Linked DNA regions of Homo sapiens: region 2 is linked to region 1. Evidence: fine-mapped expression QTL. A gene starts in region 1. The other region holds a variant in brackets. All regions are shown on one strand. Distances are between the middles of the regions.

Region 1 (9,797 bases):
CACCACACCCAGCTAATTTTTTTGCGTTTTTCATAGAGACGGGGTTTCACCATGTTGGCCAGGATGATCTTGATCTCTTGACCTCGTGATCCACCCATCTCGGCCTCCCAAAGTGCTGGGATTCCAGGCGTGAGCCACCATGCCCGGCCTTTTTTGTATTTTTAGTAGAGAGGGGGTTTCACGATCCGCCCATCTTAGCTTCCCAAAGTGCTAGGATTACAGGCATGAGCGACTGCACCCGGCCTTTGCATGTATTCTTACAAGGATGTACAGGCACGTGAATGTGTACATGGGTGAATGAGGATTTAAACATGTATGTCTCTATACCCAAATTAGAAGCAGAAAATTGGCCAGGTGCAGTGGCTGTGAAATCCCATCTCTTCTAAAAATACAAAAAATTAGCTTGGCGTGGTGGCGGGCGCCTGTAATCCCAGCTACTTGGGAGGCTGAGGCAAGAGAATCGCTGGAACTCGGGAGGCGGAGGTTGCAGTGAGCTGAGATCGCACCATTGCACTCCAGCCTGGGCAACAAGAGGGAAACACTGTCTCAAAAAAAAAAAAAAAAAAAAAAAAGCAGCAACAGCAGAAAATTAAAAAGGGTTGACTGGCAGAGGTAGGCACAAGGTCAGAATCGAGGAACAAGAGCTGTCAGAAATGACACAGACAAAGATAGTTAAAATAATAGAATTCTAAGGCCGGGAAGGTGGCCCATGCCTGTAATCCCAGCACTTTGGGAGGCCGAGGTAGGCGGATTACCTGAGGTCCGGAGTTCGAGACTAGCCTGACCAACATGGAGAAACCCCATCTCTACTAAAAATACAAAATTAGCCGGGCATGGTAGCACATCTGTAATCCCAGCTACTCGGGAGGCTGAGGCAGGAGAATCACTTGAACCTGGGAGGCAGAGGTTGCGGTGAGCCAAGATCACGCCATTGCATTCCAGCCTGGGCAACAAGAGCGAAACTCCATCTCAAAAAAAAAAAAAAAAATAGATTTCTGGTATTTTAAAGGAATGCAGCCATCTTAGAAATATTACTTAGATGAAATGATCCTTCTCTGCACATGATATAATTAACCATATGCCCACATTTGAGGGTGCTCCAAGACCAATAGATCCTAAAATTAGTTTTGCCAGTAAGCAACCTACCAGATCATCTGCAAGTAATGCAAGAGAAATCACAGATCATATTTAAGACCTCAGTGAAGGCTGGGCACAGTGGCTCATGCCTGTAATCCCAGCACTTTGGGAGGCCAAGGCGGGCGGATCACCTGAGGTCGGGAGTTCAAGACCAGCCTGACCAACATGGAGAAACCCTGTCTCTAATAAAAATACAAAAATTAGCCAGGCGTGGTGGCACATGCCTGTAATCCCAGCTACTTGAGAGGCTGAGGCAGGAGAATCACTTGAACCCGGGAGGCAGAGGTTGTGGTGAGCCGAGATTGTGCCATTGCACTCCAGCCTGGGCAACAAGAGTGAAACTCCGTCTCGGAAAAAAAAAACCTCAGTGAAAACCCCCTTCTTGCAACACAAAGCAGTGCCTTCCACCCCTCCCTGACTGTTGCCATGTATGACAAACATCCCATATGCAGAGATGAGTCCAGGCCAGACACAAGGACACACAAAACACAGAAGGACCCCACAGAAGACAGCCAGTTCTCTACACAACAGTAAAATCAGAGAAGCTGGAAAGGAAGTTGAGGAGTGAATGGGGCAATACAGAAATTGAAAGAAAAAAGGACACAAACTGATTGGAGAGCGGTGAGCCAATGAGCAATTGCACCTGGTGCAAAATTCCTGTGCCCCAACTGCTAGAGCAGCTGCCCCTCAAATTGACAGAATGTCTGAGCTTCTTCACAGTTGCAGGGTGGAAGGCATCTCTAAGGTCCTAGGCTCTCCCAGGTTGGAAGGGCATTTTTCAAGAATAGTGGCATCTGAGGGATGGGGCTATGGAGAATCATCATCTCAGCACCTCCAATGGCTTTACTGAATGTACAGATTTAAATAATGTTTTATTTATGAGATGGAGAAAAAGCCAAGGTGGACTGAAATGACAGTATTAAAAATCTAGCCCACAGAGGCCGGGTGCAGTGGCTCACGCCTGTGATCCCAACACTTTGGGAAGCCAAGGCAGGTAGATCACTTGAGCTCAGGAGTTCGAGTCCAGCCTGGCCAACACAGTGAAACCCCGTCTCCACCAAAAATACAAAAAAATTAGCTAGGCATGGTGGCACATGCCTGTAATCCCAGCTACTAGGGAGGCTGAGGCAGGAGAATCACTTGAACCCAGAAGATGGAGGTTGCAGTGAGCTGAGATTGCACCACTCAAGCCTGGGCGACAGAGTGACTCTATCTCAAAAAAAAAAAAAAAAAAAAAGGAAGAATCCAGCCTACAGAAATACTCATGCAGCTGCAAAAAGATATTCACTGGAGCATTATCTGTAAGACTGAGAAACTGAAACCAACGTACATGGCCATTAACAGAGGACCAGCTAGATAAATAAACTACTATGCATCCTTAAAATTCACATGAAATAATATGAAGCATTTTTTAAAAAGTAGATCTGTAAGTAGAAAAGAATGTCACTGATAATGCTAGAGGAAAAGCACACTGTAGAATTACATGTAGACTAGTATGACCTCATTTTTGTAAAAGAACAAAACTACACCTCTTTTTTTTTTATTTTTATTTTTTTGAGATAGAGTCTCACTCTGTTGCCCAGGCTGGAGTGCAGTGGTGCGATCTTGGCTCACCGCAACCTCTGCCTCCTGGGTTCAAGCGATTCTCCTGCCTCAGCCTCCTGAGTAGCTGGGATTACAGGCACCTGCCACCACACCCAGCTAATTTTTGTATTTTTAGTAGAGATGGGGTTTCACCATGTTGGCCAGGCTAGTCTCGAACTCCTGACCTCAGGTGATCTGCCCACTTCAGCCTCCCAAAGTGCTGGGATTACAGGCATAAGCCACCACACCCTGCCAAAACTACATCTCTTGAAGGAACAAGAAAAAAAAATCAGTGTGCCTGTGGTCCCTGCTACTCAGGAGGCTGAGGCAGGAGGATAGCTTGAGCCTAGAAGTTCGAGGCTGAAGTAAGGTATAATCACACCACTGCACTCCAGTCTGGGTGACAGAGCAAAATACCTGTCTCTTTAAAAAAAAAAAAAAAAAATCAGGAAGAATATGCAAACTGCTAATAGTGCTTACTGTGAGAAGCTGGGGAAAAGGTGAGTGTTTTTGCGATACACTGTGGTACTGTTTGAATTTTCACACAAAGCATACTTTAACTATATATATATATATATATGTTGTCAGAGACATTCCTCTCTATCTCCTTCTTACTCCCAGACTGCACTCACATCCCAGCCTCTGTCCAGCCCTCCACCCACCACCTCCTACCCCAGCCCCACTTACAAATGCAGGCAGCAGCCAGCAGGCGGCTGGCAGCATAAGGGGCGAAGCAGCTCGGGAAGAGAGGCTGTACCATGTAGTTGGCAAAGGTGATGGCAATGATGGCCTGGCTGGTGGGCTCAATGATGAGCAGGGAGGTCCAGAGTCTGATGAAAGCAAGGAATCCTCCAAAGGCCTCCAGGATATAGGCATAGCTGGCCCCAGATTTCTTAATGGTGGTGCCCAGTTCCGCATAACAAAGGGCCCCAAAGACGGAGAAGAGGCCCCCGACAGCCCAGATGACCAGAGAGAGACCAAAGGAGGCACTGTATATGAGCACACCCTTGGGGGAAACAAAGATGCCCGAGCCGATCATGTTCCCCACAATCAGGCACACGCCGTTAAGCAGTGAGATCTCCTTCTTCAGCTTCACCTGCTCCGGCCCTGGGCTGGCCCCATCACCCAAAGGGGAGGTTTCCACCTCAGGCTGGGAGGCCACTTCATACTCAGTGCTGTCAACCATGGTGGAGGAGAGGAAACCCTTCACCAGCTTCCTGGCATTGCCCTTTAAGGAAGAAAGATGATGCTATAGATTAGGTGGTTGGCAATTACATAGAACCTCTACCCGCCTCCAACACAGGGTAATACGGGCAGCTCACCAACCAATGCGGAGACCTCCAAATAACCTTTTCTCCAGCTCACTCATCAAAACAACCCCAACTTGAATATTTGTCTATCTATCTATGTATTTATTTATTTATTGACAGAGTCTCGCTCTGTAGCCCAGGCTGGAGTGCAGTGGTGCAATCTCGGCTCGGCTCACTGCAACCTCAGCCTCCCGGGTTCAAGCGCTTCTCTTGCCTCAGCCTCCCAAGTAGCTGGGATTACAGGCACCTGCCACCACGCGTGGCTAATTTTTTTTTTTTTTTTTTGAGATGGAGTTTTGCTCTTGTTGCCCAGGCTGGAGTGCAATGGCGCGATCTCAGCTCACTGCAACCTCCGCCTCCCGGGTTCAAGTGATTCTCCTGCCTCAGCCTCCCAAGTAGCTGGGATTATAGGCATGCACCACCACACCCAGCTAATTTTGTATTTTTAGTAGAGATGGGGTTTCTCCATGTTGGTCAGGATGGTCTCAAACTCCCGACCTCAGGTTATCCGCCCGCCTCGGCCTCCCAAAGTGCTGGGATTACAGGCGTGAGCCACCTTGCCCAGCCTCCAACTTGAATTTTTAAGAGAAGGCACTCATTCGCCAGAGAGAAAGGATCTGTCTCTCATCATTAGGACATTGCTGCCCACCCGACTCACCAAATAGAGAACTAAATCTTGGGCCGGGCGCTGTGGCTCACATCTGTAAACCCAGCACTTTGGGAGGCCAAGGCGGGCAGATCACCTAAAGTCGGGAGTTCGAGACCAGCCTGACCAACATTTAGAAACCCAGTCTCTACTAAAAATACAAAAATTAGCCATGCGTGGTGGCACATGCCTGTAATCCCAGCTGCTTGGGAGGCTGAGGCAGGAGAATCACTTGAGCCCGGGAGGCAGAGGTTGCGGTAAGCTAAGACTGGGCCATTGCACTCCAGCCTGGGCAACAAGAGCAAAACTCTGTCTCAAAAAAAAAACAAAATCAAAAACAAAACACTAAATGTTGGTTCTCTCTGAGCCTGCTATAATACAAGACAGGCATGGGGGCAGTGTGGCGGCTCCCAGAAAATAACTATAATGGCTTGACCCCGAGTTTTCAGCCTTATCCAAAACCCGTCTTCCCTCCAATTTCAGCTTCAGGGATCACCTGTGCTGAGGTACAACATTAGGAACTGACCCTACCAGCAGCTAATCTGTGGGAGCGTCTCATGACACTGCTCTTTTCCCCAAGGACTCTACGTCTGCCAAAACTAAAGGCTTCAGAAACCTGCTGGAAACCCACAACCATCCTCCTGCCCAAAGAGCATCCCTTAACCCTTAGCTGGAGTCTTCAGCCCTGGCAAAGCCCAAGTAGACCCACTTCACCCTGAAAGAAGACAGGCTATTATCTTTTCCTTGCTTTTCCTTTCCCATTCTCTGGTATTCTAAGCCTCCTGCTATCGATCCCTCACATCAGCATCGTTGAATCACCCAAAAAAGTATGAATGAGAGAAGGGCGATCCAATGTACCATAAAACCTAGGGATGATTGGAGGCAGCTGATGGCCACTCCCTACCCCAGAGTTGCTGCTGGAGAGATATCACCCCGAGCCAAGGCAGGGAGACAGCTGCAGCCAGGCAGCACATGCTGGAAAACACCGAACAGGAGACAGCTGAGAGGAAAATGGGAGAGGCTAGTCAAGCAATGGAGAGATGTTAGGGTGAGAGGCACTCGGGAGAAGAAGCGATTAGACACTGCACAGCAGCAAAGAGGAGGGTTAGCAAGGTAAGTGGAGATGAGAAGAGGGTGGAACGCACACTCACTCCTTGGTCCTGGATATAAGCAGGTTCTCACGGCAGTGTGAGCAGCAGTCAGGGAGAGAAGTGCCTTCCAGGATCTGTGGTCTGATGCTCCTCCTTCCCAGCCAGCAGTAAAAGGGAAGGCCAGACAAATGCCTATGGATTTAAGCAAGAAGGGTGGAGGAGGTGAGGCAGCCCGCAAAGGAAGGAGTGAGGGAGGGGGAAAGGAGTATTAAGCAACCATCTGGGTCCAAGGTTCACTGGCCCTTCACATCTGCAAAAGGGGCAGCTAGGAGCTCTTGGCTCAGCACTTTCTGTGATAAGAAGGTGCTCTCTCAGGAATCTCCTTTGTCAGCTCTGCTCTGGGACCAGGGGCCCAGAAGAAAGGACAGTCAGCTGAGTGCAGTATCTGTAGCCCTGGGGAAGCTGTCCCAGAGCAAGTTAGCTGAGGACAGGACAGTAGCGGGGAAGGAATACACAGCACTCTCTCTCTCTGTGTCCTCCATGCCCCACCCTAGCCTCTCTTCTCTCTCACCCCAAGCATTTAAGAAAGGGAGGAAGGTTGCACAGTGTGACACAAAGGCTTGTTCCCATGCTGAGATTACAGGAAGTGTAAGAGCAGTCTCTACACCATGTGACTGGGTGTTCTAAGAGAACTCTGCACACTTCCCCATGCAAAGAGAGACTGGGGGGTTGCCTCCAAGCCTGGGCCACTGCCCCAAAGTCTGAGCCTCAGACTACTTCAAAAGAAACACAGTCAAGAGATCAAATATCTGACTGCATCCCCACCAGACCCACGTGCCTTTTCATTCTTGACAAAACATACCAAGATCTCTGGGATAAGCATAAATTCCTATAAACGCCTTCCTCAAATATAAGTTGACTCCACTTTCCTAAAAAATATGAGGAAATCAGGCCAGACGCGGTGGCTCACGCCTGTAATCCCAGCACTTTGGGAGGCTGAGGCAGGCGGATCACAAGGTCAGGAGATCAAGACCATCCTGGCTAACACGGTGAAACCCCGTCTCTACTAAAAACACAAAAAAATAAAAATTAGCCGGGCGTGGTGGCGGGCACCTGTAGTCCCAGCTATTCGGGAGGCTGAGGCAGGAGAATGAGGAGAATGGCATGAACCCGGGAGGCGGAGCTTGCAGTGAACCCACATTAGGCCACTGCACTCCAGCCTGGGCAACACAGCAAGACTCCATCTCAAAAAAAAAAAATTAAAAAAGAATATGAGGAAATCAGATTTCACTGAATTCTGTTGGACAGACAGGCCCAGAACAGGCAGAGGAAGCTGAGCACTTTTTGGAAATCACATAGTTTATGCTATCTTTATTATTTACTTTAAATCTGGTATTCTGAGTCTCTTTTACCAACAGAAATAGACCCTATCCATTCTGAAATCCAACTGTCTGTTTCTTCTCCTATCTGTTCTAACCCTCTTTGGTTATTCTACAACCAGAGAATAGAGATCTAAATATCTCTGGGAGACATCTCTACCATACATCCTCCCATTCTAGCTCTTTAAACTTTTAATTTAATCTAGGAGGAGGATTCTGGTGTGAGCGTTCCCAGAGATCATGCTTCTCCCAAGACAGGCTCACAATGATCTGAAATCCTTCTGGAGGAGACTCTCCTTTTCTCCAAAATGCTCCTGTAATAATAATTGCTATCACTTATTGAGCACTTACTGGGCCAGACACACTGCTAAGGACTTAAGCACATTATCTCATGGAACCTCCAGAGCTCATATACTCTTAATCACACAAGTATACTATCTCTCCATCTCCCCATCCCCCTGGCCTGCCTTAGTCTCTAGGCCTTCCTTTTATTTTTTTTTTTTTTTATTTATTTTCTTTTTTTGAGACAGAGTCTCACTCTGTCCCCCAGGCTGGAGTGCAGTGGCACGATCTTGACTCACTGCAACCTCCACCACCTCCTGGTTCAAGCAATTCTCATGCATCAGCCTCCTGAGTAACTAGGATTACACCTGGCTAATTTTTGTGTTTTTATTTCGGTATTTTTATTTTATTTTATTTTATTTTATTTTATTTATTTTGAGACAGACACTTACTCTGTCGCCCAGGCTGGAGTGCAGTGGTGCAATCTCGGCTCACTGCAACCTCCACCTACTGGGTTCAAGCAATTCTCCTGCCTCAGCCTCCCGAGTAGCTGGGATTACAGGTGCACACCACCACGCCCAGCTAATCTTTTTTGTTTTTAGTAGAGTCGGGGTTTCACCACATTGACCAGGATGGTCTTAAACTCCTAAACTCAGGCAATCCGCCCACCTCGGCCTCCCAAAGTGCTAGGATTACAGGCATGAGCCATTGTGCCCAGCCTAATTTTTGTATTTCTAGTAGAGACGAGGTTTTGCCATGTTGGCCAGGCCGGTCTTGAACTCCTGGCCTCAACTGATCCACCTGCTTCTGCCTCCCAAAGTGATGGGATTACAGGCGTGAGCCACCGATGCCACCTTAGACCTTGCTTTTGGACAGGAATTATCTACATGAATTACCTGGGGGAAGATGTAAGCAGACTAGATTAAAAAGAAAGAAAGCCTCTGTCATCCTTCAGTCTATAGCCTAGACGAAAGGCTCCAACAAAGTTTGTTAATCTCCTTCCTGGCTGCCCCTCCCCTTTCTCATTCTTTGCAGGGATAAGAGGTGATTACAAGTCCTCTTGGCAGTGCTGCTATTGCTAGGGTGCCCACTTCTAAAGCAAACAAAAAAAAAAACACAAACACATCATCACGCCTGCCCTTTTAAGACCAAATTCACTGGCACCAAGGGGTGGGCATGTGTCCTAATATGACGTAAAAGAAAGGAAGGAAGGAGGGACAAAGGAAGGGAAAACTGTGAGGGGGAATGGAGAGAGAAGTGTACAGGGTTTCATTCCTGACTGGTAGCATCTGAAAAGTGAAGTCCTATCCGTGGAATTTTGAGACAGAAATCTGCTGGGGGTAAAACCCACACTCCAGCAAACAGCACGCCCTAGTGGTAGCACCAGGAAGTGCTAGTGGACTCTAACCTACTTCAGTCTGCCCGTGCGCACTAGGCAAGGGAGGCTGCCATGCATTGAGAACATGAAGACCCCCTCTTTTCTCAACCACTACCTAGCACCCTGGACAAGAAGGCACCATCTTTGGCAGCTCACATTTCTCCCTGAGACCCTGGGTCTTAGGGTAATGCTTCCACCATTCAGGCAGCCCCACCATTCAGGCAGCCTGGGACCAGCAACACCCCTAGGCTCTCCCAAAGGGGCTCTTCTACCCCAGGTTTTTGGTTTTTTTTTTTTTTTGGTTTTTGGGTTTTTTTTACCCGAGATGGAGTTTTGCTTTGTCCCCCAGGCTGGAGTGCAGTGGCACAATCTCTGCTCACTGCAACCTCTGCCTCCCGGGTTCTCCTGCCTCAGCCTCCCAAGTAGCTGGGATTACAGGTGCCCGCCACCGCGCCCAGCTAATTTTTGTATTTTTAGTAGAGATGGGGTTTCACCATGTTGTCCAGGCTGGTCTCGAACTCCTGACCTCGTGATCCTCCCACCTCAGCCTCCCAAAGTGCTGGGATTAAAGGTGTGAGCCACCGTGCCTGACCCACCCCAGGTTTTACATGAGAAACCCCATAAGATAACAGCAGCCCTTGTTGCCTTTCCCTGTCTGAGATGCATTCATCTCTGAACACCCAGTGAAGATTACAGGACAACACACTCATCCTACAGCTTGTGGAAGAAATTTGATTCAGAAACTGGCAGCAGGGCCTCCAGTATGCAGTGCTGGGCAGGACAGCCAATGGAGCCCCTCACCCTAACCTCACCCTCGAATGACAACACCAAAACACAATTTCTCCAGGAACTAGTACATAATTCGGGGTCTTGGCTCCTCAGCCAAGCTCAGGGAACTACTATAAGAACACACTTTCTCTCCCAGAGACCCCATGTCCTGCCTTCCTGGCTCCAATCAGTCTGTGCTGCCTCCCCTAACAACAGAAACAG
Region 2 (16,064 bases), 26 kb before region 1:
GACTTATCCAATGCTGAGCCAGCAGGTCAGGCTGTGTGGCCAAGGATTAGGATGAAGGCCAGACTTCCTGCCCACTGCCTGGCAGCTCAGCTGCCTGCTTTTGTGCTTGGAAAGATTCTTGCAGCTAAGAGTGGTTCCTGTAGAATGGGGACAGGGCATTTTTCCTGATGGGACAATAGAGAAGTAAGAGCCACACACATTCCCCCAGTCCTTCTACTCAGAAGTACAGGTTTTAAAAGTACCTTTTATCAGGGTTCTTAACTAGGGCCTCCATGAGGCTCGAAATTCTCTTTCAAAGTGTTATGTCCATATGAATACAGACATACCTAAGAAAAAGTTTCATATCTTTTCTTAGAAAGGGATCATAGCTTTTATCAGAATCTCAAGTCCATTATCCCTCCCCCAACAAAAAAGTTACAATCTACGACTTGAATTTGAATTACTTGAAGAAGTTCAACAAGGGAGGCTCACGCATGCTGTGAGGTTGACCAGTAGCCCCAGAATGTGGCCGAGAAGAAAGTTGGAAAAAAAAATACAGATCTTCCCACTGGTAGCATAGCGAATCGCTTCATTGCTCCCTCCTTCCCAGCTCAGCAACTGGAACACTATAAGGAGGGCTTAACTTTAAAGCCCTTCTCCCAAGGGCTCCAAGGGCAAGGTCAACATCACCCTGCCTTACCAGTCAAGAGAATGAGGCCTAGTACAGTTCTTGCCTACTTCAGGCCACCAACACAGTCAGAAACACCCTCTGAGTTCTCCTGGCAGTGGTGTGGCCTTGGTGTCGCTAGTCCTCCTATTTTGTGGTGTCCTGGCCTCACCACATTCTGGCTACTTCATCCTGAGAAGCAGGGAAGTCTGGCCTCTCAGAACAGCTGCCCCATCTTCTCTCTCTCACCCTCCCTTCCACCACCACCCTCATTCTACTGACTGCCCAAGTTCCTTTCTGCTCTTCCTGAGAAGGCACATTCCTGTCCTATATAAATGCTTGCCTTTCTGCCTAATAAACAACAAACCTTATCACAGGGCTGGGCAAAAATGTACCCACAGCTCCAGGCCACCCCAGTGCTAAGTTAATAATTTAAGACACAAGTGTGCAGCACCCCACAAAATGACCAAAGTGGCTGTATCTTGCCCTCCACAAATCTTTCAAATCTGTCACTCCTCCTCAGCCAGTCACCCATCCTTTACTCCCCACTGGACTCCAGCCTCCAGCCACTCAACAGCTTAGTGCCCCTTCTCCCCAGCTTGTAACCTCTGCCCTTATCCTAGGCTCTGCGGCTGGCTCATAACCACAACATAGCCAGGTTTCCAAGTAGAAACACCAGACACAAAGGATGCTGCCACATTGTCAGGAAAATGGGATCCCCAAATACAAATTTATGATTCCCTGCAGGGTAACCATGAGTCATAACACCAAACTGGAATAAGCTTACAGGACTAGCTCTAGTTCAGACTCAGAGTCTGAGCTGTGTGCCACAAGGTTCTTCTCAGTTCTGTCCAGGGATGTAGGCAGGGAAAAGGAGGGATAAGCAACCAATTCACCACCTGCTACCACAGCAGATTCTGAAATGGAAATACATGGCTTGTTTATATTTTATTTTATTTATTTTTCTTTTTCTTTTTGAGACAGAGTTTCACCCTTGTTGCCCAGGCTGGAGTGCAATGGCGTGGTCTCGGCTCATGGCAACATCTGCCTCCCGGGTTCAAGCCATTCTCCTGCCTCAACCTCCCAAGTAGCTGGGATTACAGGTGTGCGCCACTATGCCCAGCTAATTTTTATATTTTTAGTAGAGATGAGGTTTCACCATGTTGGCCAGGCTTGTCGCAAACTCCTGACCTGAGGTGATCCACCCACCTCAGCCTCCCAAAGTGCTGGGATTACAAGCATGAGCCACCGCGCCCGGCCTATATTTTATTATTTTTTTTTATTTACTTATTTATTGACTTATTTATTTATTTATTTATTTATTTTATTTATTTTTTGAGACACAGTCTTGCTCTGTCACCCAGGCTGAAGTGCAATGGCATGATCTTGGCTCACTGCAACCCCCACTTCCCAGGTTCAAGCAATTCTCCTGCCTCAGCCTCCCGAGTAGCTGGGACTACAGGTGTGTGCCACCATGCCTGGCTAATTTTTGTATTTTTAGTAGAGATGGGGTTTCACCATACTGGCCAGGCTAATCTCGAACTCCTGAGCTCAGGTGATCCGCCCACCTCGGCCTCCCAAAATGCTGAGATTACAGGCGTGAGCCACCACACCCGTCCCTTTTTGTTTTTTTTTTGGAGATGGGGATCTCACTCTTTCACCCAAGCCAGAGTACAGTGGAGAAATCATAGCTCACTGCAGCATCGAACTCCTGAGCTCAAGGGATCCTCCCAGCTCAGCCACCCTAGTAGCTGGGATCAAAGGTGTGCACCACCATGCCCAGCTAATTTGTTTTAATTTTTTTTTTTTTTGAGATGGAGTCTTGCTGTCACCCAGCCTGGAGTGCAGTGGTGCGATCTCAGCTCACTGCAACCTCTGCCTCCAGGGTTCAAGCAGTTCTCCTGCCTCAGCCTCTTGAGTAGCTAGGACTACAAGTGCCCACCACCACACCTGGCTAATTTTTGTATTTTTAGTAGAGACAGGGTTTCACCATGTTGGTCAGGCTGGTCTCGAACTCCTGACCTTGTGATCTGCCCTCCTCAGCCTCCCAAAGTGCTGGGATTACAGGTGTGAGCCACCGTGCCTGGCTGTTTTAATTTTTTTAGAGACGGGGTCTTGCTATGTGGCCCAGGCTGGTCTCGAACTCCTGGCCTCAGGCAATCCTTCCACCTCAGCTATCTGAGGAGTAACTGGGATTATAGGGAAGAGCCATGGCACCTGGGTGGCTTGTTTACATTTTAATCCCTATTGCTTCTCTACTTCTTTTTTTTTTTTTTTCGAGACAGTCTTGCTCCGTCCCCCAGGCTGGAGTACAGTGGTGCGATCTCAGCTCACTGCAACCTCCGCCTCCTGGGTTCAAGCGGTTCTCCTGCCTCAGCCTCCCGAGTAGCTAGAATTACAGACATTCAACACCATGCCCAGCTAATTTTTGTATTTTTAGTAGAGACAGGGTTTCGCCATGTTAGCCAGACTAGTCTCAAACTCCTGACCTCAGGTGATCCGCCTGCCTCAGCCTCCCAAAGTGCTGGGATTACAGGTGTGAGTCACCGGCGTGGCGTGCCCAGTCTCTTCTCTACTTCTCTATCCATCCATTTGTATCCCTCTCTTTGTCCACCAGTATCCCACCTCCCCCACTCCTGAGCCTGATTTCTCTGACCCACCTTCTAGCCCTGATCTGCTCTCTGTACTGAGCACAGAAGGCTCAGTTTGAATGAGGAAGGGAATCCTACAGAAAGAAACCAGGGAGCAGAGGGAACTGCCTGAAGAGAGCTAGCCCTCCTCTTCCTCAAAGCCTAGCTTCCTCCAGGGCCTCTTGACTGTGGGAGCAGGAAATGGGTATGGCAGGCAGCAGTGCTGACAGGGCTTTTTGTCCCCACCTCAGCGGATACAGCTGACCACTGGCCCCAGAGCCCAGCTAAGTGCACTGCTCTTGAAGTGGAGCCCAACCTCCTGCTTCAGGGCCAAGGACAGGAGGGGACCATGGGGTTAGGATAATATGGAGGCAACTGCAAGTTAACCTCAAGGGCAGAGATGCCCTCCCCTTCTACCTCTAGGGGCAATTCAATCCCCACCCAACACTGGGCCAAGTCTATAAGAGGATAACCTGAAATCACCTTTGACCCTTGACTCGGTGCAGCAGCACTCCTGCTTTGACCCCAGGGGGAGAAAAAAAGAATCTGCAAAGAAGTCACTCGTGGCCGGGTGCAGTGGCTCACGCCTGTAATCCCAGCACTTTGGGAGGCCGAGGTGGACAGATCACGAGGTCAAGAGATCGAGACCATCCTGGCCAACATGGTGAAACCCTGTCTCTACTAAAAATACAAAAATTAGCTGGGCATGGTGGTGTGTGCCTGTAGTCCCATCTACTTGGGAGGCTGAGGCAGGAGAATCACTTGAACCCAGGAGGCGGAGGATGCAGTGAGCCAAGATCACACCACTGCACTCCAGCCTGGTGACAGAGCAAGACTCCATCTCAAAAAAAAAAAAGAGAAGTCACTCCTATAACCATCTAAAAAGATGTTCCTGAATGGATCATCAAACCCAGCCTACATACGGTCCCCGGGAGTAGGAGACTAGTTCTAGTGGTAAGGCCCAGCATCAGCGCTAGAACTAAAAGCCAGAAAGCACCAGACCAGGTGGATCCAGAACAGAACAAAGCTTGCAGGCCCACTCTGGATCAGATGCTCAGGTTTAGTTTAGACACCTAAATGAAACATTTCCTGAAAAAGAACATTAAACCCACAATTCTGTAAGCACTATTACCTTTAAATACACACAATGTAACACACAAAACTTA[T/C]GATTACAGGCGTGAACCACCATGCCCGGCGTCATTCCATTTTAAAAGTGATCTATAGAGCCAGGCGCGGTGGTTCGCGCCTGTAATCCCAGCACCTTGAGAGACTGAGGCGGGCAGATCACTTGAGGCCAGGAGTTTGAGACCAGTCTGGCCACCATGGCGAAACCCCGTCTCTACTAAAAATATAAATATTAGCTGAGTGTGGTGGCGCATGCCTGTAATCCCAGCTACTTGGAGGCAGAGGTAGGAGAATCATTTGAACCCGGGAGGCAGAAATTGCAGTGAGCCAAGATCACGCCACTGCACTCCAGCCTGGGTGACACAGTGAGACTCCATCTCAAAAAATAAAATAAAATAAAGTGATCTATAGCTCTTCCTTTTACTAAGCCAACAGCGTCTTCCTCCCAGCTTCTACCAGTAGTGCCAGACCCCTCCTCTGTCTCCACACAGAATGAAGCTAAATCCTCTTCCACCCAATGGCCCTTCTTAACATTAAAGATGAATATCACGGCCAGGCGCTGGCTCACGCCTGTAATCCCAGCACTTTGGGAGGCCAAGGCGGGCAGATCATCTGAGGTTGGGAGTTCGAGACCAGCCTGACCAACATGGAGAAACTCCGTCTCTACTAAAAATACAAAAATTGGCCAGGCGTGGTGGCACATGCCTGTAATCCCAGCTAGTCGGGAAGCTGAGGCAGAAGAATCACTTGAACTCGGGAGGTGGAGGTTGCGGTGAACTGAGATCTCGCCATTGCACCAGCCTAGGCAACAAAAGCAAAACTCCATCTCAAAAAAAAAAAAAAAAGCCAGGCGCGGTGGCTCACGCTGTAATCCCAGCACTTTGGGAAGCTGAGGCAGGCGGATCATGAGGTCAGGAGATCAAGACCATCCTGGCTAACACGGTGAAACCCCATCTCTACTAAAAATACAAAAAATTAGCCGGGTGTGGTGGCAGGCGCCTATAGTCCCAGACACTCAGGAGGCTGAGGCAGGAGAATGACGTGAACCCGGGAGGCGGAGCTTGCAGTGAACCGAGATTGCGCCACTGCACTCCAGCCTGGGCCACAGAGCGAGACTCTGTCTCAAAAAAAAAAAAAAAAAAGCCAGGTGCAGTGGCTCACGCCTGTAATCTCAGCACTTTGAAAGGCCAAGGCGGGTGGATCACGAGGTCAGGAAATTGAGACCAGCCTGCCCAACATGGTGAAAACCTGTCTCTACTAAAATACAAAAATTAGCCAGGCATGGTGGCACAAGCCTGTAGTCCCAGCTACTCGGGAGGCTGAGGCAGGGGAATTGCTTGAACCCGGGAGGCAGAGGTTGCAGTGGGCCGAGATCACGGCACTGCACTCCAGCCTGGCCACAGAGCAAGACTCCATCTAAAAACAAACAAAAAGGATGAACATCCTGTCCCCTTGAGTCTTTACTCCTTCAGGCTAAAACCCAGATTTTACAACCCCTTGTGGAGCAAATGTGGCTTCCAGACCCCTCACCATCCCAGGACTGTCATTTATTTCACTTTGTCATTTACTGCATATACTTCACTGTGTCAGTATTTCCCCAGAAATGCAAGACCCCACACAGAAAACTCCAGACCGTGTTGCCGACTACGGAGTCTCAACCTGAAATCATTGTTTACTACAACTCCTTTCTTTCCCACCTCAAAGTGATGAGATCTTTCCTCCCCTCTTTCTGGACCTATAAAAATGATTTTTTTAGCTGGGTGCGATGGCTCATGCCTATAATCCCAGCATTTTGGGAGGCCGAGGTTGGAGGATCGCTTGAGTCCAGGAGTTCAAGACCAGCCTGGGCAACATTGTGAGAACACATCTCCACAAAACATTTTTTTTAGTTAGCCAGACATGGTGGCACACACCTGTGGTCCCAGCTACTTGGGAGGTTGAGGCAGGGGGATCGCTTGAGCCCAAGTGGTCAAGGCTGCAGGGAGCTGTGATCGCACCACTGCACTGCAGCCTGGGCAACACAGTAAGATCCTTTCTCCAAAACAAAAAAAGTGATTTTTTCCCCCCAGATACAGGACTTCATATTTAGTCTTAGTGACTTTCCTCTGAGTTTTTATGCATTATTCTTATATGATATGGGATTTTTCCTTCTTCATTTTATTAGTTCAAATCCCTTCTTTAATTTTGTGAAATCTGCAAATTTGATCAGCATACCTCCTGAGTCTTCACTGAAGTCACCCTAAAAATGTTGACTAGGGCCGGGCGCAGTGGCTCACGCCTGTAATACCAGTACTTTGGGAGACCGAGGAGGGAGGATCACCTGAGGTCAGGAGTTTGAGACCAGGTTGGCCAACATAGTGAAACCCCGTCTCTACTAAAAGAACAAAAATTATCCGGGTGTGGTGGTGGGCACCTGTAGTCCCAGCTACTCGGGAGGCTGAGGCAGGAGAATCGCTTGAACCCAGGAGGCGGAGGTTGCAGTGAGCCAAGATTACACCACTACACTCCAGCCTGGGCGACAGAGTGAGACTCCGTCTCAAAATAAATAAATAAATAAATAAATGTTGACATGGGCTGGCAGCAGTGGCTCACGCCTGTAATCCCAACACTTTGGGAGGCTGAGGCAGGCAGATCACTTGAGGCCAGGAGTTCGAGACCAGCCTGGCAATATGGCAAAACCCCATCTCTACTAAAAGGAAAATGCAAAAATTAGCAGGGTGTGATGGCACACGCCTGTGGTCCCAGCTACTCAGGAGGCTGAGACATGGGAATTGTTTGAGCCTAGGAGGCAGAGGTTGCACTGAGCCAAGATTGTGCCACTGCACTCCAGCCTAGGTGACAGAGCAACACTCTGTCTCAAAAAAAATTTTTTTAATAAAAAAATTAAAATGTTAGGCCGGGCACGGTGGCTCACGCCTGTAATCCCAGCACTTTGGGAGGCCGAGGCAGGCAGATCACAAGGTCAGGAGATCGAGACCATCCTGGCTAACACAATGAAACCCCATCTCTACTAAAAATACAAAAAGTTAGCCGGGCGTGGTGGCGGGTGCCTGTAGTCCCAGCTACTCGGGAGGCTGAGGCAGGAGAATGGCGTGAACCCGGGAGGCGGCGGTTGCAGTGAGCCGAGATCGCGCCACCGCACTCCAGCCTGGGTGACAGAGCGAGAGTTCGTCTCAAAAAAAAAAAAATTAAAATGTTGACTAAGATCAACAGAGCTGTATAGTCTATCACTGTAGACCTTTCTGTATTTGTCATTATTCCACAATGTTATTCAGCCAACTAAGAATCTACCAAACTTTATTTTTATCTAGTCTACCTTGTCAACAAGAATATCATGAGAATTTGCCACGAACCTCTCCGAAATCTGCATACACATGCCTCTGCTCTAACAATCTAATGATGCTATCAAACAATTCAAATCAAATTAGTATATATTTATGTAGAATATTCATAGTTACACCCTTGCAGTAGTCAAAAACTAGAAACAACCCAAATGCCCAGCAACAGTAGATTGAATAAATACTAAACAGCACTAAGAATAAACAATCTGTAATCCTAGCACGTTGGGAGGCCAAGGCGGGCAGATCACAAAGTCAGGAGTTTGAGATCAGCCTGGCCAACATGGTGAAACCCCCGTCTCTACTAAAAATACAAAAATTAGCTGGGCGTGGTGGCGGGCACCTGTCATCCCAGCTACTCAGGAGGCTGAGGCAGGAGAATCGCTTGAACCCGGGAGGTGGAGGTTGCAGTGAGCCAAGATCCTACCACTGCACTCCAGCCCGGGCGACAGAGTGAGACTCTGTCTGGGAAAAAAAAAAAAAAAAAGTGAACAATCTACGACTACAGACAAAAATACAGAAGAATCTCAAACATAATAAGCAAGCCAGATGCAAAAGTGTACATATAGATTATATCCATTTACATAAAATCAGAGAAAACTAATCAATGCTACTAGAAGTCAGAATAGTGATTTCCCTTTGTGTGGGGTGGAGAGGCAGGGACTGGGAAGAGCATAAGAAGGGCTCAAGGGTGCTAGTTACACATGTGCTCAACTAGTGACAATTCATTAAGCCATAAACTTATGAGATTGCACTGTTCCTTCTGTATATTATATTTGAATAAAAAAATTAAAATTGAACCAAAAAGTGAGGTTAGCAGAGTATGGCTTGTTCTTAGTGAATTCATACACGTTACTAATGATTTCCCACCCTTCTGCTCGTACTTCACTAACCAGATTTAACTTACAAGCCTAGAATTTGGGCAAGAATCCACCTTAAGTTATCACTTCAGAGTGCTGCTCATCCACCTCCGGTGGAAAGCTGGGCTATCACTTGTGGTAGGTAGACTAATGGCCCCCCAAAGATGTCCACCCCCTAATCCCTGGAACCTGTGAGCCATGTTATATTGCATGGCAAGGGAGAATTAAAGTTGCAGATAGAGGCCAGGCGCAGTGGCTCATGCCTGTAATCCCAGCACTTTAGGAGGCCAAGGCGGGCAGATCACCTGAGGTCAGGAATTCTAACCAACATGAGTCAGCCTAACCAACACGGTGAAACCCCGTCTCTACTAAAAATACAAAAAATAGCTGGGTGTGGTGGTGGGTGCCTATAATCCCAGCTACTCAGGAGGCTGAGGCAGGAGAATTGCTTGAACCCAGGAGGCGGAGGTTGCAGTGAGCCAAGATCACACCACTGCACTTCAGCCTGGGCAACAGAGCAAGACTCTGGCTCAAAAAAAAAAAAAAAAAAGAAAAAAGTTGCAGACAGAATGAAGATTGCTAATCAAGTGACAAAACAGGGAAATCATTCTGTATTCTCTGGGTGGGCCCAATGTAATCACAAAAGTTCTTAAAGATGAAAGAGGGAGGCAGAAAGGTCAATGTCAGAGTAGTACAATATGAGAAAGACTCTCCCAGTTACTGCTGACTTTGAAAATGGAAGGGTCCATGAGACTCTAGAAGCTGGGAAAGGCAAGAAGATGGATCCTCTCCTTAAGCCTCCAGAAAGAAACACAGTGCTACTTCATATTAGCCCAGTGAGACCCATTTCAGACTTCTGACCTCCAGAATTATGAGATGATAAATTTGTGTTGTTTTCAGCCACTCAATTGGTGGTAACTTGTTAGAGAAGCAATAGAAAACTCATATGTTGGCTGGGCACAGTGGCTCGCTCCTGTAATTCCAGCACTTTGGGAGGCCAGGGTGGGCTGATCCCTTGAGCTCAGGAGTTTGAAACCAGCCTGGGCAACATAGAGAAACCCTGATTCTACAAAAAATACAAAAATTAGCTGGGCCTGGTGGCGTGCACCTGTAGTCTCAACTACTCAGGAGGCTAAGGTGGGAGAATTGCTTGAGCCTGGGGAGGTCAAGGCTGCAGTGATCCTTGATTGCACCACTGCATTCCAGCCTGGGTGACAGAGCAAGACTGTCTCAAAAAAAAAAAAAAAAAAAAAAAAAAAACCTAACTGCAGGCAGAAAACTGGAAGTAGCACTGGGTGGTACTATTCATTACATTTGTTGAAAAATGGAGAAAGGGGAAGTGAAACCCTTGACAGCTCACTGGATCTTGGTGTACTGAAATTTCCCTCTCACTGCAATCAAAAGAATCTAAATGTGACCTTATGCAAAGAAGGCAGGCATCCCTTATGATAGCAGATCCTCAAACAAGTATGTACCTCTCTCTTTAATGTACTACATGAATCCCAGCTCTTCTAGCAAATCATCATTTTTGAACAAAGTATACTCTTTCATTATCATATTCTAATCAAATATCGCTGATGCCTATGAAATTGTTTCCTCCTTTCAGTAAAAGGTCAAATACGGGCCGGGCACAGTGGCTCATGCCTGTAATCCCAGCACTTTGGGAGGCGGAGGCAGACGAATCACGAGTTCAAGAGATTGAGACCATCCTGGCCAACATGGTGAAACCCCGTCTCTACTAAAAATACAAAAATTAGCTGGGTGTGGTGGTGTGCGCCTGTAGTCCCAGCTACTGGGGAGGCTGAGGCAGGAGAATCACTTGAGCCCAGGAGGCGGAGGTTGCAGTGAGCTAAGATCGCGCCACTGCACTCCAGCCTGGTGACAGAGCGAGACTCCGTCTCACAAAAAAAAAAAAAAAAGGTCAAATACGTTTATTAGCCTTACTTGTAATATTTGTAGATAAGAGTTCAAAAGCATCATTTCTGATCTTCCATCCCATTTTCTCCAAATGCGTTACTGAGCAACTCCTCTCTGCCTTTATTCTCTGCTATGTAGTCTCCAAAATACCCAGATTTATACTTTTATCTAGGCATTTTTCTCCTTGCCTCTAAAATTTCCATTCTAAAGCCTTATTATACACATCTCTCCCAATCCCTATAAACCTCCTCTATCCCTTACCAGGAGTTTATCTTTCTGGTATCTTAGAATCTTAGAATTTACGGTTAGGAACTCTGTTCTGTGTTCTTTTTTCTTTCACATACACAGCCTTCAGCTGACAAAGAGACGAAAATTCCACCTGCCACTCAGTTTGCTACTTTAAACTTCACGTCACCAGTGAGACATCTCAGCTATCTTCTGACTGGTGACATCATTCATCCCACAGCAATTAGCAGAAGGATAGCAGTCCCTAGGCTTAATTGGTGTGAGCAAGCTCTTGGTCACATGTTGCTCAGAAAAACTGCACATTTCTAGGTTAGGCTGGGTCTGTGTATAGTCAGATGCACACTATTCCTGGGGGAAGGCCAAACCCCACAACTGGCATACTCAGGCCTGCTAATACCCTGGTGTCTCCAAAATACTCTACCACTGCTGTTTCCTCAGAAGGTCCAGATATAAGCTCTCTGGAAACGCCTCATATCTGTTACCTAAACCCAGAGATTTCAAGTCTCTTCTTCCTTTTCTTTGCTGCATCCCCATTTGTTTTGTCTAATGTTGGTTTGGGAAAATCTCTACACCTTTTTTTTTTTTTTTTTAATTGAGATGGAGTCTCGCTCTGTCGCCCAGGCTGGAGTGCAGTGGCGCCATCTCGGCTCACTGCAAGCTCCGCCTCCTGGGTTCACGCCATTCTCCTGCCTCAGCCTCCCGAGTAGCTGGGACTACGGGCGTCCGCCACCACGTCCGGCTAATTTTTTTGTACTCTTAGTACAGACGGGGTTTCACCATGTTAGCCAGGATGGTCTCAATTTCCTGACCCCGTGATCCACCCGCCTTGGCCTCCCAAAGTGCTGGGATTACAGGCTTGAGCCACCGCGCCCGGCCTGGAAACTCTCTACACCTTGAAATCACAATTTCACCCTGGCTTCTTTGATACATTATTTCTTCCACTCTCCCTAGGTGCTGTTATTTCTCTCAGATAGCAGATGGCCTTCAAATTATTTTACCTTTCAGACTACAGAAACCTTTTACTCCAGGTGCAGTGGCTCATGCCTATAATCCCAGCACTTTGGAAGGCCAAGACGTGAGGATCACTTGAGGCCAGGAGTTGGAGACCAGCCTGGGCAGCATAGCAAGACCCTTTCTCTACAAAAAAATTACAAATTAGCTGGACTTGGTGGTGCACACTGATGGTCCTAGCTACTTGGAAGGCTGAGGTGGGAAGGTCACTTGAGTGCAGGATTGAGCCCATAACCATGCTACTGCACACCAGCCTGGGCAACAAAGCAAGACTTCGTCTCAGAAAATAAAATAACATTTTTGACCAGGCGTGGTGGTGGCTCACACCTGTAATCCCAGCATTTTGGGAAGCCGAAGTGGGCGGATCACCTGAGGTCAAGCGTTCATGACCAGCCTGACCAACATGGCAAAACCCCGTCTCTACTAAAAATACAAAAATTAGCCAGCCGTGGTGGCGCACGCCTGTAATCCTAGCTACCTGGGAGTCTGAGAGAGGAGAATCATTTTGAACCCAGGAGGCGGAGGTTGCAGTGAGCCGAGATTGCACCACTGCACTCCAGCCTGGATGATAGTGTGAGGCCCCGTCTCAAAGAAAGAAAGAGAGAGAGAGAGAGAGAGAGAGAGAGAAAGGAAAAGAAAAGAAAAATATCTTTTTTTTTTTTTTAAAGACAGAGTCTCGCTCTGTCGCCCAGGCTGGAGTGCAGTGGTGCGATCTTGGCTCACTGCAACCTCCGCCTCCCGGGTTCATGCCGTTCTCCTGCCTCAGCCTCCCAAGTAGCTGAGACTACAGGCGCCCGCCACCAAGCCCAGCTAATTTTTTGTATTCTTTAGTAGAGACAGGGTTTCACCGTGTTAGCCAGGATGGTCTCGATCTCCTGACCTCGTAATCCGCCCGCCTCGGCTTCCCAAAGTGCTGGGATTACAGGCGTAAACCACCACGCCCAGCCAATTAAAATAAAAATTTTAAAGAAACAACCAATTCGCTTACTCAGGTGTCATGGGTGAGAGCCTCTGTAATTGCAAAATTTTGACTGAGACAGTGAAAGAGATCTAACTTAACTGACTCCATCTTGCTTCTAACCTCCAAGCTGCCTTTATTCATTCCCAGGCATAGGCTGAACTAACTTTGGGAGAAACTTAGTTTATAATTTAGACAAAGAGGATAACAGCCCTTTCCCAAAGCAGACCTCCTTCTTGCCTGGGGACTAGATTGCCTTTGTAGGACTAACATTAGCCACAAGATTAGAAATTATGGTTTAGGGCTGGGCACGGTGGCTCATGCCTGTAATCCCAGCACTTTGGGAGCCATAGGAGGGCGGATCACCTGAGGTCAGGAGTTCAAGACCAGCCTGGGCAACATGGTGAAAACCTGTCTCTACTAAAAATAAAAAATAAAATTAGCTGGGTGTGGTGGCGTGCACCTGTAACCCCAGCTACTAGGGAGGCTGAGGCAGGAGAATTACTTCAACTCGGGAGGTGGAGGTGGCAGTGAGCCAATATCACACCACTGCACTCCAGCCTGGGTGACAGAGCAAGACTCCATCTCGAAAAAAAAAAAGAAATTATGGTTTAGGAGTCACGCAGCTGGAAGCTACAAGATTCTGACCTTCCCTAAACTGCTCCTAAGATCAGTGCTTGAGGTATTTTGTAGACCCTGCTCTTGGTGGATCAGCTGGCCCCCACCCAGATCAATAAACTGGCTTAGCTGATCTTGTGGCCCCCACCCAGGAACTGACTGAGAGCAAGAAGACAGCTCTGATTCCCTGTGATTTCATCTCTAACTAATCAGCACTCCTGGCTCACTGGCTTCCCCTGACCCACCAAGTTATCCTTAAAAACTCTGCTCCCAGAATGTTCGGGGAGACTGATTTGAGTAATAATAAAACTCCGGTCTCCCGCACAGCCGGCTCTGTGTGAATTACTCATTATTGCAATATCCCTGTCTTGAAGAATTGGCTCTGTCTAGGCAGTGGGCAAGGTGAACCCCTTGGGCAGTTACACCTCTGGCAAGAAGACACACCAAATGCAATCCCTGTGGGTCACTGGATCAGAGTCCTCCCGCTCTCCTTCCTGGAACTCAGTCAGCACTTTGGTCCCTGTGGCTCTGACCACTCTGAGGGAGCAAGCAGGCAGTTTGTACCAGGAGGGTCTTATAGTAACAACCCCGTGAGTCCCTTCTCCAAGCCGTGTAAATCCAATCCTTATTGGTTTGCTTAGCTAGGGGTCAGTTCAAGTCCTCAGGTACCAGATCTCAAGCCTGAGTGAGCATCAGTACCACCTGAGGAATTTGTCGACCCACAACTTCAGGGCCCCACACCCCAGAGGTTCTGATGCAGGAGACCTGAGACAGTTTCGCAGGCTAATCTGAGGATCTGCTTCTCTGGGTGTGTTTCCTTAGGTAATCACCTACGGAAATAACCACACACAGAGCAGCTGTATCAGAACAGTCGCAACCCTTTGCTAACTCAAGGCTCCTCTATCCTGGCTGCAAACTAGCATCACTTGACGAGCTTTAACAGTCCAGTGCTCAGGCCCCACCCAGACCAATGAAGTCAGAAATTCTGGGGTGGAACCCAGGCATCGGCATGTTTTTAAAACTCCCCAGGTGACTCTGAAGCATGGTGACAATTGAGAACGGCTTTTCCCACCTCTAGTGACACAAGACCCTCATCAATTCTCCTCAAAAGCAATTTTTCTGCTTCCTTAATTCTCGTTCTCCAAGCCAATTCTCATCTCATTCTTCTCCCCAGTGGTTCAGATTTATGTAGTCAGGGAGTGGGAGTGATGAGTATTGTTTTCTTTCTTTCTTTTTTTTTTTTTTTTTTTTTTGAGACAGCGTCTCACTCTGTTGCCCATGCTGGAATGCAGTGGCACAATCTTGGCTCACTGCAGCTTGGACCAAATGGGCTTAAACAATCCTCCCACCTCAGCCACCTGAGTAGCTGGGACTACAGGCATGCACCACCATGCCCAATTAATTTTTTTTTTTTTTTTTTGTAGAGACCAAGTTCTCCAGACTGGTCTCCTGAGCTTAAGCCATCCTCCTACCTCAGTCTCCCAAAATGCTAGGATTACAGGTGTGAGCCACCGTGCCCAATCTGAGTATTGCTTGCTTGCTTTCTTTCTTTCTTTCTTTCTTTCTTTCTTTCTTTCTTTCTTTCTTTCTTTCTTTCTTTTCTATTCTTTTCTTTTCTTTTCTTTTCTTTTCTTTTCTTTTTTAATTGAGACAGAGTCTCACTCTGTCGCCCAGGCTGGAGTGCAGTGGTGCAATCTCGGCTCACTGCAAGCTCCGCCTCCCGGGTTCACACCATTCTCCTGCCTCAGCCTCCCGAGTAGCTGGGACCACAGGCGCCTGCCACCACACCCAGCTAATTTTTTGTATTTTTAGTAGAGACGGGTTTCACCATGTTAGCCAGGATGGTCTCAATCTCCTGACCTTGTGATCTGCCCGCCTCGGCCTCCCAAAGTGCTGGGATTACAGGCGTGAGCCACCGTGCCCGGCCTTGTTTTCTTAATTCTCCAGATGATTCCAATCCACAGCCAGAGTTAGGACCCACTGCTGCCCAGCATCTTCCGCAACCTCCTCTAGGCTACCTGCCCAGCTTCTTCTGAGGCAGAGAGAAAAAGAAAGGAACATAGAAACATAGAACATAGAAAGGAAGAGAGCAAGGATGAGCCCCCAAAGGGACTTGATGATCAAAGCAGCATAAAGGTCTACCCCTTCACTGCTGGTCAAGAGTTTGTTCCAAAGTTCACAACAAACCCACACTAGAACCCAAGGCTCTGATGAAAGCCTATTTCTTGAGGTGAATATGGGCCAGAAAAGGTAAGTTTCTTCACCTCCACCCTCAGATGGCTCTTGGGAAAAGCCCTCTGAAAAAGGCAACTAGCTTCCAAGTAGAAGGTTCAAAGGGCAAAAGTCCGTTGGGGGGCCCAGCATCTGACTGTTCCACCTCATTAGCCACAAGTACATGAGATCAGTCATTCTGGTACCAGGAGAAGCTGCACGAGGACACCTGGCCAAAGCTCTCAGACACACAGAGATCCAAAGTCCTTCACAGCCCACAGCGGCTCTGGCAGACTCAGGGTAAGCTGTCTGCCCCCTTCCCACAGCAACCCTCAGCCCCCACCAGCACCCTGAAAGGCAAAAGCACGAAATACCCTTCTCAGCCAAGTTGAACCTGGAATCATATCTTCTGTTCATTCATCCAGCCAACATTTATTGAAGAACCCACTACATGCAATTCACTGTGGCCACATGTGTATGACACGAAGAATCTTTGCCTGATCC

The links. PIP is the estimated chance that this variant, and not a neighbour inherited with it, causes the effect.
Region 2: its variant is fine-mapped to the expression of SLC7A7 in whole blood (INTERVAL, PIP above 0.99).

The regions. Positions count from the first base shown.
Region 1 is chr14:22,809,492-22,819,288 of GRCh38, forward strand. It overlaps SLC7A7 (solute carrier family 7 member 7), which reads right to left and starts at 5,944. Exons shown (of 10, transcript NM_003982.4): 1 at 5,829-5,944; 2 at 3,409-3,949. The coding sequence starts at 3,907. RefSeq lists silencers at 3,792-3,851, 3,872-3,931 and enhancers at 5,239-5,745, 5,934-6,033.
Region 2 is chr14:22,780,497-22,796,560 of GRCh38, forward strand. The region is part of intron 2 of SLC7A7 (solute carrier family 7 member 7); the gene reads right to left. Among named protein-coding and RNA genes, the nearest start is that of OXA1L, 22 kb to the left of the region's middle. RefSeq lists a silencer at 2,941-3,111 and an enhancer at 16,018-16,064. The variant T/C (reference allele first, on the strand shown) is at 4,443.